Linked DNA regions of Homo sapiens. The gene in region 1 interacts genetically with each later gene. Each region holds a gene or a part of one and is shown in the gene's direction. Other genes may lie near its edges.

Region 1 (3,500 bases):
TTTGTATTTTTAGTACAGACAGGGTTTCACCATCTTGGCCAGGCTGGTCTTGAACTCCTGACCTTGTGATCCACCCACCTCAGCCTCCCAAAGTGCTAGGATTGCAGGCGTGAGCCACTTCGCCCGGCCTCTTGTTTCTTTTTTTTTTTTGAGACGGAGTCTCTCTTTGTCGTTCAGGCTACAATGCAGTGGCTCCATCTCTGTTCACTGCAACCTCCACTTCTGGGTTCAAGTGATTCTCCTGCCTCAGCCTCCCGAGTAGCTGGATTACAGGCATGCGCTACCACACCTGGCTAATTTTTGCATTTTTAGTAGAGACGGTTTCACCATGTTGACCAGGCTGGTCTTGAACTCCTGACCGACCTCAAGTGACCTGCCCCCCCCCTTGCCCTCCCAAAGTGCTGGGATTACAGGCGTGAGCCACCATGCCCAGCCTATAAGACTTGTTTCTGCTGCCTCTCATGCTCAGTGGCTTGTTTCCATTTCCTTGTGTGTGTCTAGTATTCTTTAGTATTTGAGCTTATGCTTAGGGCTCAAATCTTTTTTTTTTTTTTACCCCCCTTTGGAGATTTTTTTTCTCATTGGAGATTTTGCCTTGCTTATTGAAAGCCCAACAGTGCATTAAAAATTTAATAAGTATCTAGTTAAATTATAGTGGGAACATCTCTCCAAGTAGCTCATCTGCCAAGTCTATATATAGAAATATGTGGTCTTATTGTGAAACTTGCCCCTTCTCTTTTTTCCCCTCCCATTTAACAATATATTAGATATCTTTCTATGTCATTATCTCATTCTTTTTCATGGCTGTGAAGTATTCCTTTGTATGAATAGATAATAATTTAACCATTCTACCATTGCAGGACATTAGGTTGTTTCCAGTTTTTTTTTTAAATTACGAAATTACAGTAAACACATTCATATGTATGTCTTTGTGCGTTTCTGCTAGTATTTCTGTAGGATTGATTTCTATAAGTGGCATTAGTGGTTGATGAGATTTTGATTAAATAATGTCAAATTGACCTAAATAGGCTATGCTAGTTTATACCTGTACCAGCAGTGGCTGAAAATACCCATTTTTCCTGTACCTTCTTTTTTGACTCTAGATATTATTGATCTTTTTAATTTTACTAATTAAGGAGAGAAAATTCATATTTCTTTTAGAATTTGATGCTTTGGTTATTAGGGTAAGCATATCTTCATGTATTTATTGGACATGTAATTCTTTTTTTTTTTTTTTCAAGACAGGGTCTCTGTTGCCAAGGCTGGACTGCAGTGGTATGATCATAGCTCACTTCAGCCTCGACCTCCTGGGCTCAAGTGATCATCCCACCTCAAATTCCGAAATAGCTGAGATTACAGGTGCATGCTGTCGTGCCTGGCTAATTTTTGTATTTTTTGTAGAAATGGGGTTTTGCCATGTTGCCCTGAGCTTAAGCAGTTCTCCTGCCTTGGCTTCCCAAAGTGCTGGGATTACAGGCGTGACCCACTGTGCCCGGCCCTTGGACATTTATTTCTTCTGAAAATTGTTCATTTTTCTGTTCTTTTTTTATTTTTGAGACAGAGTCTTGCTCTGTCATCCAGGCTGTAGTGCAGTGGTGGAATCTTGGCTTACTGCAATCTCTGCCTCCCAGGCTCAAGCGATCCTCCCACCTCAGCTTTCCGAGTAGCTGGGACTACAGGCATGCACCACTGTGCCCAGCTAATTTTTGTATTTTTAGTAGAGACAGAGTTTCGCCATGTTGCCCAGGCTGGTCTCAAATTCCTGGGCTCAAGCGATCCATCGCCTTGGCCTCCCAAAGTGCTGGGATTACAAGTGTGAGCCACTGGCACCTGACCATTTATCAGTTTCTCTGTTGAATTATTTCTTATTGATATATTAATATGCAGTAGTCTCCCCTTATCTGTGGTTTCACTTTCTGCATCTGAAAATATTAAATGGAAAACTCCAGAAAAAAACAACTCATAAAATTTAAATTGGTCACTATCCTGAGTCACTTGGTATAAACTTCTGCTGTCCCACCAGGAACGTGAATCCTTCCTTTGTCTGGTGTATCTGTGCTGTATGCGCTACCTGCCTGTCCATCACTTAGTAGCCATCCTGATTTTCAGAAAACTGTTGCAGTTTGCAGTGCTTGGATTCAAGTAACCTTTATTTTATTTAGTAGTGGCCCCAAAATGCAATAGTAGTGATTTTGGCAATTAGGAATGCTAAAGAGAAGCTGTAAAGTGCTTCCTTTAAACGAAAAGTTGAAAGTTCTCAACTTAAAGAAATTAAAACAAAAAAAAACTTTTCAAATCATATATTGAAGTTGCTAAGATCGATAGTAAGAATGAATCTTCTATTGTGAAATTGTGGAGAAGGAAAAAGAAATTCATGCTAGTTTTGCTGTTGTACCTCATACTGTAAAAGTTATAGCCACAGTTCACAAGTGCTTAGTTAAGATGGAAAAGGCATTACATTTATGGGTGGAAGACATGAACAGAAATGTGTTGCATTTGATGGCAGTCAGGTTCGGTACTATCCGTGGTTTCAGCCATCCACCATACTTAAAATGTATCCCCCTGGGACTACTGTATGGTTTGTGTTGCAAACATTTTCTACCAGGCTGAATTTTTTTTTTTTTTTTTTTTGAGAAGGAGTTTCACTCTTGTTGCCCAGGCTGGAGTGTAATGGCGTGATCTCGGCTCACTGCAACCTCTGCCTCCCAGGTTCAAGCGATTCTCCTGCCTTAGCCTCCTGAGTAGCTAGGATTACAGGCATGTGCCACCACACCTGGCTAATTTTGTATTTTTAGTAGAGACAGGGTTTCATCATGTTGGTCAGGCTGGTCTGGAACTCCTGACCTCAGGTGATCCACCCGCCTCGGTCTCCCAAAGTGCTGGGATTACAGGCTTGAGCCACCATGCCTGGCCTAGGCTGATTTTCATTGCTATCTTTTTCAAGAAATCATGGTATGTTTCTCCATTTCTTCACATCTTTAAAAAACATTTATTTTAATGAATTTTTACAGATTTCTTCTTATATGTCTTTCATGTTTCTTAAGTTTATTTCTAGGTATTGAATTTTTTTTTTAACTATGGAAGTAGGATTTAAAAACTTACTATTATATTTTCACTTTTGGCATGAGAGAAAGCTAGTTTCTTTCTTTACATATCTTGTACCTGACTACTTAACTCTTAGTTCTATTTTCTGTATATTCTTCCCTGTAAGTTTGCCCATAGTTACCTTTGTTCTGAAAAGGAGGGAATTATTTTTCCTTCTCCTTTCTGGACTAAATAGTCTCTTGTTTTTAGGGCTGTGGACCTGGACTTGTGCTATTAGGGCTATAGTTGAATAGCAGCATGGGATATCATCTTTGTGGCCTTGCGAGGGAACATAACCACCAGACATAATCTTATTTCTGTGGGAAATGTTGTTCTAAATGCCAAAGTCCAAATTACAAGACTTTTTGCATGCACTTCGTTCAAAAAGAACAAGATTTGGGCTGCCTTTAGATTGT
Region 2 (3,500 bases), on another chromosome or scaffold:
CCGACCTCAGATGATCCACCCACCTCGGCCTCCCAAAGTGCTGGGATTACAGGGGTGAGCCACCACGCCCAGCCCTGGGAGCTTTAACAGTGAGGCTTTTAGGAAAAATACAAAACTGATCTTCAGACACAGGTCATATTGGTGTATTTATTTTTATTTATTTATTTATTTATTTTGAGATGGAGTCTCACTTTGTTGCCCAGGCTGGAGTGCAGTGGGACGATCTCAGCTCACTGCCACCTCCGCTTCCCGGGTTCAAGCAATTATCCTGCCTCAGCCTCCCAAGTAGCTGGGATTACAGGTATGCACCACCATGCCCGACTAATTTTTGTATTTTTAGTAGAGATGGGGTTTCACCATGTTGGCCAGGCTGGTCTCAAACTCCTGACCTCAAGTGATCCGCCCTCCTTGGCTTCCCCAGGGTGCTGGGATTTCAGGCATGAGCCACCGCATCCGGCCTGATTGTTCATCGTTCAACAGATGTATTAGACAGCGTTAGACACTAGAGCTATTGGGTGAACAAAATGGAAGCAGTTTCCACCTTCAAGGAGTGTAAAGTGGAATGAGAGAGAGATGAGGTGGGGAGATTGCTCAGAGAGAGTAATTTCCTTACAATTGCACTACAGGCCATGAAGCAAGGACAAGAATACTGTGGAAATATTAACCAGGGACCCTATTCTAGCCTGATGAGAGTGACATTGAAACAGACCTGGAATATGTGTTAAGGAGAAGCAGATTAGAAGACTGAAGAGTAAAGGGAAGAGTGTTGAATGTTCATGGTTGAGGCACCAGCATATATAAAAGAAATGAGACAGGAAGGACCTCGAACCCTTATGAAACTGAAAGAAGCACAGAGTGAGTAACATAAACTAGTTGCATAGTTGGAGAGAGAATAGTACAAATGAAACTGTAGAGGTAGATTCTGTTTTGACCCTTTGAGGATGGAGAAGTCAGTTTACGGACTACACTCAGCAGTAAAAATAAAATTGAATTGATAGAAAACATCAAATGTGTCATACATAGTAAATATAAGTGATGAAATTTGTGTGTCTCATATGTACATGTAGATGTATACTGGGTTGTGAGGTATAATTTATCTTCCTGTGGGCTGCGTTAAAAAGAGAAAAGTTTTTTGGCCAGGCGCAGTGGCTCACGCCTTTAATCCCAGCACTTTGGGAGGCCGAGGTGGGTGGATCATATGAGGCCAGGAGTTCGACCAGGCGGGCCAACATGGCGAAACCCCATCTCTAGTAAAAATACAAAAATTAGCCAAGTGCGGTGGCACACACCTGTAGTCCCAGCCACTGGTGAGGCTGAGGCATGAGAATCCCTTGAACCTAGGAGGCGGAGGTTGCAGTGAGCCGAGATCACCACTGTATTAGCCTGGGTGACAGAGAGACTCCGTCTAAAAAAAACAAAAGAAAAAAAGAAAAAAATTTAAAGCCACTGGAGGGCGTCAGCCTCCCCGGTGGCTGGGACTGCAAGTGTGTGCCACCACACTTGGCTAATTTTTGTTTTTTATTTTTGAGACGGAGTCTCGCTCTTTTGCCCAGGCCGGACTGCAGTGGCGCTGTCTCTGCCACTGCAAGCTTCGCCTCCCGGGTTCATACCATTCTCCTGCCTCAGCCTCCCGAGTAGCTGGGACTATAGGCGCCTGCCACTGTGTCCGGCTAATTTTTTTTTTGTATTTTTAGTAGGCACGGGTTTCACCATGTTAGCCAGGATGGTCTTGATCTCCTGACCTCATGATCTGCCCGCCTCGGCCTCCCAAAGTGTGCTGGGATTACAGGTGTGAGCCACCGCGCCTGGCCAATTTTTGTATTTTTAGTAGAGACTTTGGAGTTTATTCTGAGAGTAATAGGAAGCCATTGAAGGATTTTAAGTTGGAGAAGATTTTCAGATTTGCCTTACCCAGACTATTGTGGAGAGTAATATGGAGGGGGACACTAATGAAGTGGCAGAGAGAGGAGTCCAGATGAGAGATGATGGAGAACATAAGTTCCATTAGAATGGAAGCGCCAGGAGGGTAACCGTATGTGTTCACTATGCTGTCCCTGGCATCTAGAGCAGTGCCTATATGCAGTTGGCACCCAGTCAGTATTTATTAAATGAAGGACTGACTTGGATTGATATGGTTGTTATAGAGATGACAGATAGTGGAATTGGTTGGACATGATGTTCAGTATGTAGAACTAAAAGGCCTTGAAGACTGAGGACTGATTAGATGTTAGGATGAGAAGAGGAGTATTTAGGATTGATGCCAGGCACTGGCATGAGATGGGGAGTGCTGGAGGAGCAGGTTTAGAGGTGAAGATCCTGCATTCAGTCTGGGATATGTGGAGTTCGAAGTGACTATGAGATGTCTAAGTGGAGACATCAAGTAGGTAGTTGAAAATAACACTTGAGGGCCAGGCACAATGGCTCATGCCTGTAATCCCAGCACTTTGGGAGGCTGAGGTGGGAGGATTGCTTGAGCTCAGGAGTTTGAGATCAGCCTAGGCAACATGATGATGAAACCTGATCTCTACAAAAAAAAAAAATTTTTTTTGGAGGTGGAGTCTCGCTCTGTTGCCTAGGCTGGAGTGCAGTGACACCATCTTGGCTCACTGCAACCTCCGCCCTGGGTTCAAGCGATTCTCGTGCCTCAGCCTCCTGAGTAGCTGGGATTACAGGCACATGCCACCATGCCCAGCTAATTTTTTTGATTGTTTGTTTTTATTTTTTTTTTTGGGATAGAGTCTCGCTCTGTCGCCCAGGGTGGAGTGCAGTGGCACGATCTCTGCTCACTGCAACCTCCCCCTCCTGGATTCAAGCGATTCTTCTGCCTCAGCCTCCCGAGTAGCTGGGACTACAGGCGTGCGCCACCATGCCTGACTAATTTTTTGTATTTTTAGTAGAGACAGGGTTTCACCATATTGGCCAGGCTGATCTCGAACTCCAGACGTCATGATCTGCCCACCTCGGCTTCCCGAACTGCTAGGATTACAAGCGTGAGCCACTGTGCCTGGCCATTTTTTTGTATTTTTAGTAGAGATGGGGTTTTTCCATGTTGGCCAGGCTGGTCTCGAACTCCTGACCTCAGGTGATCCACCCCGCCCCCCCCCCCCCCCGCCCCCCCCCCCCGCCGGCCTCCTGAAGTGTTGGGATTACAGGCGTGAGTCTACTGTGCCCAGCCGCTACATATATATGTGTGTGTGTGTGTGTGTGTGTGTGTGTGTGTGTGTGTGTGTGTAATTTTTGTTTGTTTGTTTGTTTGTTTGTTTTTTAGGCAGAGTCTCACTCTGTTGCCCAGGCTGGAGCGCAATGGTGTGATCTCGGCTCACTGCAACCTCCACCTCCCAGGTTCAAGCAATTCTCCTGCCTCAGCCTGCCAAGCAGCTGGGATTACAGGGGCCCACCACCACGCCCAGCTAATTTTTGTATTTTTAGTAGAGATAGGGTTTCACCATGTTGGCCAGGCTGGTCTTGAACTCCTGACCTCGTGATCCACCCACCTTGGC

The links.
Region 2: changes in SNIP1 (region 1) and RTF1 together harm fitness less than expected from each alone (positive genetic interaction), as found in Homo sapiens cells (one large-scale study listed by BioGRID).

The regions. Positions count from the first base shown.
Region 1 is NC_000001.11:37,540,794-37,544,293, reverse strand, and holds part of SNIP1 (smad nuclear-interacting protein 1), read left to right. Parts: intron 1-3,500. UniProt on the Homo sapiens protein: Required for pre-mRNA splicing as component of the spliceosome. As a component of the minor spliceosome, involved in the splicing of U12-type introns in pre-mRNAs. Down-regulates NF-kappa-B signaling by competing with RELA for CREBBP/EP300 binding.
Region 2 is NC_000015.10:41,423,595-41,427,094, forward strand, and holds part of RTF1 (RNA polymerase-associated protein RTF1 homolog), read left to right. Parts: intron 1-3,500. UniProt on the Homo sapiens protein: Component of the PAF1 complex (PAF1C) which has multiple functions during transcription by RNA polymerase II and is implicated in regulation of development and maintenance of embryonic stem cell pluripotency.